2 separate regions of the Homo sapiens genome follow, and region 2 is linked to region 1. The links come from fine-mapping of genetic effects on gene expression. Tissue or cell type: whole blood. Region 1 holds a variant in brackets; the other region holds the start of a gene. All regions are shown on one strand. Distances are from middle to middle.

Region 1 (4,166 bases):
AAGCTTTCAGACCAGTGACTTCCTCAGCCACAGCCTGCTTATTCTCAATCATCTGTGCTCTCCCTCTGCAACCAGGATTTAGGAGGCAGAACTCCAGAGAGACCCTCCCGGGCTCCTGGTTCCTGCTCACTTGCCCCAGCAGGGCCTTTGGAAGGCCTGGAAGGCTGATCCACGAGGCTGATCCTTGACTCACTTTAATGAGGAAAAAATGTCCTCTAGGAACAAATACATTTTTAATGAGCTATTTTCTGGCAGATTCAATTATTTTAGTAGTCACGCCAAGTTTATTAATCCTTTACCATCTGTCGTTGTGCCTTATTACAAATTCAAAAACATATTAAGAGCCCCATCACCCATCATCCCAGGGGAGTTGTCAATTTGTTCACAGAAAATGGGGATTTCAACAGAGATATACACTTGTTTCTCAATGACTGCTTTTTGGTAATAAACAAGCCCAACCATGAGGAATTCAGGAAATTGCTGGGGTTATTCCCCCTCTGATACACCACATTCTTCCATCTGACCTTGTTACAGAATATCTGTATTGCCAAGGAGGGCTGACTTCATTATATTTATTTATTAACTCATTTTTGACTCTTATTTTTCCTATTTGAAAAGTGGTAGGCTCATTGTGGAAAATTGTGTATGCATAAAGATAAAGAAGCATAACTTTGAGATAAAGATGGAAAAGGGCTCCGAGAATCCATCTTGCTACTCAGGGGTGATCACTGTGAACCAGTGACCCCAGAGTCTGACGGGCCACCGGCCGAGGGCCTGGCATCCCAGGAAGTGCAGAGGAGGGGGGCAGCTGAAGTCTGCTGATTTTTCAGTGCCTAGGATCCCCAGGACTTTGGATCCTTGGATTTGGGAATGGATGGCAGGCTGAGGACTCTGGATCCTTGGACTTGGGAATGGATGGCAGGCTGAGGACTCTGGATCCTTGGATTTGGGAATGGATGGCAGGCTGAGGACTCTGGATCCTTGGATTTGGGAATGGATGGCAGGAGCATGCCCTCTCCTTCACATAGGGCCCACTACAAGCTCAGCATGGGACCCATGTCAGGCCCTGCTGTGACTGCTCTACTCTCTTCCCAGCCTCCCCTCCCCAGACCAGCTCCGTGGCTGGAGAATGCACAGGAAGCGTGACCATTCATGGAGCTGTCCCTGATTGGAGTGGAGGTAGACATACAGCATGGCGCCGTCTGGCCCTGCCAGTCACCTGCCAAAGACGGAAGGTTTCTCCCGGAGGGACTATGACAGTCCCCACCTCTACACGATGGCCCACCCCCAACAGGAGCGTCAAGGCAGACAGACTCTGGAAGTTGTAAGGATGAGGACAGTTAGAGATGACAGCAGGTATGTTGTCATTATACAGGCAGGTAGATGGGGCAGAAGAAGGAAAGGGGAGAAGAATGTTCCTTCACCTCCCTGCTGCTGGCTTCTGGGCCTTTCCATAGAAGGTGCTTGGGAGCTGGGGCTTCACCGGAGGCTCTGGCATCCAGGTACCCAAGTGGACAGGGTTGCCCCCCAGCCAAGAGGGAGAGAAAAGGCAGCTGATGGTTAGATGGATGTCAGGCTGCTCCCCACAAACTCGGTGGACCCTGTTCCTATTACACTCCATGCTCATTTAATTGCAATGCTTTCATTTTGGAGTACTTTTACCCTGAAGCACATAGAAACTGGAGAGAGGTGGTGTTAAAAATGGAAGAGGAAAAATGATAGAGGAAGTCAAAAAACAACTTACCACACATGTCACATCCCCCTGCCTCTCTTCAATGCACTGGGCATTCACACTGCAAGGGTTCAGCTCTGGGTTTCTGCAGTTTCTTTCC[G/A]CTTTGCATCCCCTTATCTGATCACCAGTATACCCCGGCTTACAAGGCCCACAGCGGTAAGATCCCTGCAAGGAACAAAGATCAGGTGATGAGCTGAAAGCTGTGGGCAAAGGTACAGTTTGAGCAAAGGTACAGTTATTGTGTATATTTTCACAGGTACTCATTGCTGGCAGGAATCAGGCATCAGATCCATGCCTTCTTCTTTGCTTACATGTAAGATCATGTGAATGTTGATGAAAACACCATCAGACTGGAGGCTGCGTCCGGCCACTCAGACAAAGAAGGAATAGAAGTGAAGGAAGAAGGCTGGACTGTGAACCAATGACACTGAGTTGCCCGCGCCACCGTGGAGGGCATAGGGGACAGGTCAAAAGTTCCAGTGAAGTCCTGGGAGGTGGTGTGAGAAGTTTACTCTGGGGACAGGGAGATGATCTGCTTAAAAAGCAAGTTAATTTTTCTTATTGCTGTTCCTTTGGCTCTTTTACAATGGAATGACAAAGGAATGGGTGCACAGAGAAATGCTGGTGGCCTGCATTGAGAATTTCTGATGAGGTAGGCTGAGAAACTGACAAATGAGCTGTCAGCTCCGCTGCAATGACACTTCAGGGGCCAGGTTTTTTTAGCTTTTATATATATAATATATATTATCACACTGCACACTATATATGTAATAAATATTATACAATATGTTTAAAAAATGAAAATTAAAATTTTCATCTTTATTGAGGTATAATTGACAAAACTGAATATATTTAAAGTGTGCAGTGTGATGATGTGATATACGTATACATTGTGAAATGATTACCACAGTCAGTTAAGTAACACATCCATCAACTGACATAGTTACCTTCCTTTTTTTCTTTTTCAGTGAGAACACTTAAGATCTGCTCTCTTAGCAGATTTCATATATATAATATAGTATTATTAACTACAGTCACCATGCTGTACATTAGATCTTTTTCATCTTATGCAGTTTTATTGGCATAACATTTACAGGTCGTAAAAGACATCCATTTGAAGTATATATATTGTTTAATGATTTAAGTCACTCACAACCTCTTAGTTGCCAAATCCAATGCATGCTTTCCAATGACTTGTCTCGATCTTTCAGCCTCCCTGGCTGTGCTATCAGTTCGCTCCTTTTTCTGGCTTCTGCTCTTTTTCCTTGGCCTAGTCCTTCGTTTTTGGGGTTTCCTGGAGTTCTATTTACTGTCTACTTTCCTTCTCTCTAGGTGGCTCAGTTATTACCTTTACACCAAGATCTCGCAAATCTATTTGCAGACTACTTTGTCCTGGTAAAAGCTGAGAAGCAATAAATCCCCATCTATTCCTAAGCAATATAGCATTGCGGAGAAGAACTCAGGCTCTGTAGCCAACCTGGAAGATGTGTGACCTTAGTCTAAATACGTAACATTTCTTTTTTTTCTTTTTGGAGACAGGGTCTCCCTCTGTCACCCAGGTTAGAGTGCAGTGGCGATCACAGCTCACTGTAGCCTCAAACTACTCTTGTACCCAAATGATCCTTCGGCCTCAGCCTCCTGAGGAGCTGGGACTATAGGCATGCTCCACCATGCCTGGACTTAATGATGTAATATTTCTGTCCCTCAGTTTCTTCAATTGTAAAATGGGGATAATAATAATCCCTGTTTATGAGGTTGTTGTGAGGATTAAAATAAGTGACTTGATAAATGTAAAGTGTTTTTACTTACAAGGAAACAAGGAACCTAGAGGCTGGATAACTTTCAAATAGTCATACACGTAATCAGTAGTTCTTTTCTTGATAGTCAACTCTGGTACATCTCTCATCTTGGACACAGTTTGACAGGAACTTTCAGAAATAAAACCCATATCTGAATACTTAAGTTATAGGCATCCCTAAGTGCTAAGCACTTTAATTTAATACAATGAAAAGTTTTGAAAAGTTTTTTTTTTTTTTTTTTTTTGAGAGGGAGTCTTGCTCTGTCGCCCAGGCTGGAGTGCAGTGGTGCGATCTCGGCTCACTGCAAGCTCCGCCTGCCGGGTTCATGTCATTCTCCTGCTTCAGCCTCCAGAGTAGCTGGGACTACAGGCACCCGCCACCAGGCCCGGCTAATTTTGTTTTCTATTTTTAGTAGAGACGGGGTTTAACCATGTTAGCCAGGATGGTCTCGATCTCCTGACCCCATGATTGAAAGTTTTATGAAAATAAATAATGCCATTTGGGGATTGTGTAGTCACCAGTAAAATACTGAACTATTAATATAAACTACCAAGCTCTTCACAATTTTAAAATACAGGAGTAATAATTATTTACTCAATAAATAGTTATCTAATAGCCTAATATTGCAACTTTGA
Region 2 (4,166 bases), 32 kb after region 1:
AACAATGAAGCTCAGGGGAAGAAGGAGATAATCAAATTATCCTGTTAAGCCTGATAATTGCAGACTAGATAATGCAATAAAAGAATCTATCAGAAACTTAACTTAATCAGATCATCTACAGCAACTAAATTACCCAGATAATTTAGGTTGTATAGGCCGAGTTCAAATCTCCATAAAATGGTCAGGTATGTCTGAGACATACCTAAGGCACACCATAAAGCTGTATGTTCAAAAGTCAAGAACGTATATAACACAAAAAAATTATACCTATAAATTTGAACTTGCCAAATATCATCACAATAAGACTTTTGAAGTGTTTAAAAGCTTCCTTTTTTACCTTCCTAGAAGTATGGGGCACGGACTACAGCATTTCAAATACTTCAACACAAACTAAAAGTTAGCAGTACTCTAACCCCTGAAACCACAGTTCTGGTTGTCTGGTCTGGAATGAAAATGAGTTATTTGGCGAAATGCAGTTTAAATGGGTGATTCCAGCAGCGAGAGGCAGGGAAGTTGAGAACGCCCTCATAGGCAGTCTTTGCTCTGGCTACAAGAGGAAAAACAACTTTTACTTCAAGTTGTGCGTCTCTTCCAGTTTTACTTCCACAGTCAGTAATAAATCAACCCAGGCACCAAGTTCAAACAGATGAAGCTCACGCCTGACCAGTTAGGGCCAGTTATAGCCCTAAGATCTTTCTTTGCTTAAATCATGTCTTCCTTTTGGTCTTTACAAAAAATTCTGTTTAACTGCTTTCTACCCAATGGCTATTTCACCCCATTTCACCAAGGGGTTTGAGGATTGTCCAAGTATCTTTTCACATTATTTGTTGAATTTTTACCGTTTCATAGAAAAAGATCAATTTCTTTCTTTTTTCTTTTTAAATTATAGATTCAGAGGGTACATGTGCAAGTTTGTTACATGGGTGCATTGCATAAGGTGGGATTTGAGCTTCTAGTGAACACATCACCCAGTGAACGTAGTACCCAATTGGTAGTTTTCCCAACCTTCCCCCCTACTTTTGGAGTCCCCAGTGTCTACTGTTTCCATCTTTATGTCCATATCTATCCACTGCTTAGCTCCCGCTTGTGAGAACATGGTATTTGCTTTTCTGTTCCTGCCTTAATCCACTTAGGAAAATGGCCTCCAGCTGCATCCATCTTGCTGCAAAGAACTGATTTCATTGAAAAAGACCAGTTTCTCAGCCCTTCCTATTTACCTCAGAAATTAAGACATCAAGCCAATCCTTGAAATAAACTTTCTTTTTGTCGTTCAAGCAAAGTCAGAGCAGAAAATGCAGGTGGCAGGGCAAGTAGAGTAATTCTGCGTCTTTCTCAGGGATGTCAAGAGCAGACTCTGGGCATACATCGCTCCGCCTGAGGAAGGATTTAGGGAGCAAGGCTGCCTGGAGGGAACCGGCACAGGGTGCAGGACCCGGAATTCACCCTACACCAGAGCCTAACATGTTAAGAGGTCTAGGACCGTGTAGCAAGTTTTGAAGGCAACCCCACCCCACATCTTTGCATAGTCTGAAACAATTTTGCATCCCCCAACTATTTAGGCAATTGTTCTCATCATTGGATAATCGAATTTCGGAAAATTCTAGACTAATCACTACCTCCAATCACAATATGCTTTGATTGGGCCCGGGAGGGACAGAGAGGGGCTGAGCAAGGCCACAGGAGCACAGGGCCGAGCAAGTCCCTCCACTCACTCAGCAGATGGGGCACCCGGTGCCCGGCGCTCCCAGGCCCGACCCGAACCCACTTACCCTGGGGGGTGGCCTGGGCGCCTGCCGCTAGCCACCGCTGCAGGACCAGGTGCAGCAGGAGGACGGCGGCTCCGCGCGGGGCCAGCATGTTGGCTCTTCCTGCTCCCCGCGAGGCCGGGGGCGACGGCGGCGTTGGCCCCGCCTGGGGGTCCCCGGGCCGTGCGTTGAACCTCGGTCGGCGCCCGGGCCGGCGCCGCAGGTGACCCGTGCTCGGCGTCCGGGCTGCCGTCGGGGGCGCGCTCGCGTCCCCGCCGTGCGGTGCTGGGGAGCTGGCTGCTGGGCTCCGCGGCAGCGGCCGGGCGCTTTATGGTGCGGCCGGGCGGGGGAGGGCCGGGGCGGGGGCGGCCCCCTTGGCGGGATCCCCTGTCCTGGGAAGAGCTGGGCAGCTGGAGCAGCGAGCCGGGGCCGCAGGGAGAAAGGCGCGGGTGTGAGGATGGGAAGGAGCCTGGACGGACCAGGTCCTGGGGTGGGTGTAGACACGGCCCCGACGCGCGAGGGTAGGGGCGAAGATGGGCAGTCGGGGCTGGAGAGAAAGGGGTGCTGAGCAGAGACCACAGGGGAGAAAGGAGCGGGAGGAAAGGGGCGAAAGGGAGGAAGAAAGTGACACTGACCCACTAGCTTTGGGCACCTTCAGTCCCCTACTCCTTGCGCTCCTTTTGTTTTCTAAAAAGAAGAATATCCTTTGGATCGGCTTTGAATGCCCACCTTGGGTTCCCTTGCGAATGAATCCTGAAGTTCTCCAGGAACGCTCTGCCTCCTAAAGTGGCCCAGAGAGCAGCGAGTTTCTTTTATTTCTTCAAGCTTTTCTTGAATACTTGAAAGGCTGAATTTTTTTCTCTATCATTTTGAGACACAGTGAAAGTTTGAAAGTTGTTGTGTTTTTAATGGAGATAAAACACATCTCAAGGAATCCATCCAGACAGAGCCATTTCTAGGCTGGTGAATCTGTGCTTTATGGATAATTCGTTTTCAGTATGGTTTCCAAACGCCCTGCTTGCCCACCTCTATTCCTCTGTCACCAAAGATTCCGTGTGACAGTTTAAAGGTACGGGAGTAGAACTTGAAAGAGATCGGAGGAACGCAAGTAATTCGTCCTTTTCCTGGGCAAAGCTCCCGGAATGATATGGATTAACTAGAGGAAAAAATATTTGATAAACAGTGGCAAAAATTTCTCCTCTGTAACAATCTCGACTAATGGAGAACATCCAGCAAAGTATTGCTATCTCTTTTATGTCTCAAATAATTCCATTTCAAAGTTTAATAAGCCACAAACTGGGAGATTAATGCACCATTTTATCCCCAAACTGTGCTAAAATAACCTGACACCAATTATCACTCAATTTACAGCTAGCGACTTGGAGATTTGTGAGCTATCTGCAGAGCTCTCTAATATGTAAGGTCCAATACAGGTCTATCCAGGGTTCCTTTAATGCCACATTACACTACAGTCACTCTTTGGAATGGGGCATATGTCTACACATGAGAGAACACTGAGAGACACAGAGGATGTGCATAAATATCGACTAATGAGATAAACTAGATTTGGGAACATTCAAATCTCCAGACCATGTTCCCAGGAGTGGCCTGGGTTTGAGAGGAATCTAGGCTCCCAAGCTACGCTTCAAGCAGAACAGCCTTGCCTTTCTATGTTTTTACAGTAGACTTCAGAGATTAAGATTTTCTGTGAAGACAATATTTGGATGCTCAAAATTTTGAAAGCCACTATTCAGTGGTTCTCAGCTGATTGGGTATACCAGAATCTCCTGGGGAATTTAAAAAACAGTGATTAGGTGCCTACAGGGAACAAATGAAACCAAACATCAAAAGCAGCAATATGCTATATCACACCATAGACTACTCTGATACATAAAATAGGGTTACTCCTTAAATGAGTCACCAAGCAAGCCTAGTGGATGCCTGTGAGAGTTCTTGTGTAGTGTGCCACCAGACACTGCCTGTTTCCTCTCAGATCTGGTGCTCACCTTCCACTGCATGCTTGTCAGCAGTCTAGATAAAATGGGAGACTAGAGAGCAATAAGAAGGTAGAAGGTAGACACTAGAGTATTTACTTCTCTGTGACCTGAATGGATGCATCTTCTTTGTGACTCTTGCAGGTGGGGTCCACCATGATTCTAGCTTCTGCCTTCTCACCATTTGCACCCTCCAGCCATGACATTGGAGGTCACTTACTGCAGTTGCTAAAATGTGGATTGCCTCACTCTTCTGTTTGACATCTCAGTTCTTCTACTATATATGTAATCATTTCCCTGTATTAAATTTCTTCTATTTAAAATACCTAGAGTATTTGCTAGGAATCTCCATGGTGAGGACAATGCACCACGTGCTGCTGGAGGTAGATGTGTTGGAGGGCACCCTGCAGTGCCCAGAGTCTGGACG

Evidence for each region. PIP is the estimated chance that this variant, and not a neighbour inherited with it, causes the effect.
Region 2: it holds the start of THBS4, and the variant in region 1 is fine-mapped to the expression of THBS4 in whole blood (TOPMed, PIP above 0.99).

What each region holds. Positions count from the first base shown.
Region 1 is chr5:80,065,704-80,069,869 of GRCh38, reverse strand. It overlaps THBS4 (thrombospondin 4), which reads right to left. Exons shown (of 22, transcript NM_003248.6): 10 at 1,745-1,897. THBS4-AS1 (THBS4 antisense RNA 1) reads left to right here. Exons shown (of 8, transcript NR_109930.1): 7 at 1,096-1,356; 8 at 1,989-3,521. Among named protein-coding and RNA genes, the nearest start is that of THBS4-AS1, 16 kb to the left of the region's middle. The variant G/A (reference allele first, on the strand shown) is at 1,833.
Region 2 is chr5:80,033,229-80,037,394 of GRCh38, reverse strand. It overlaps THBS4 (thrombospondin 4), which reads right to left and starts at 2,047. Exons shown (of 22, transcript NM_003248.6): 1 at 1,770-2,047. The coding sequence starts at 1,857. It also overlaps the pseudogene TRMT112P2.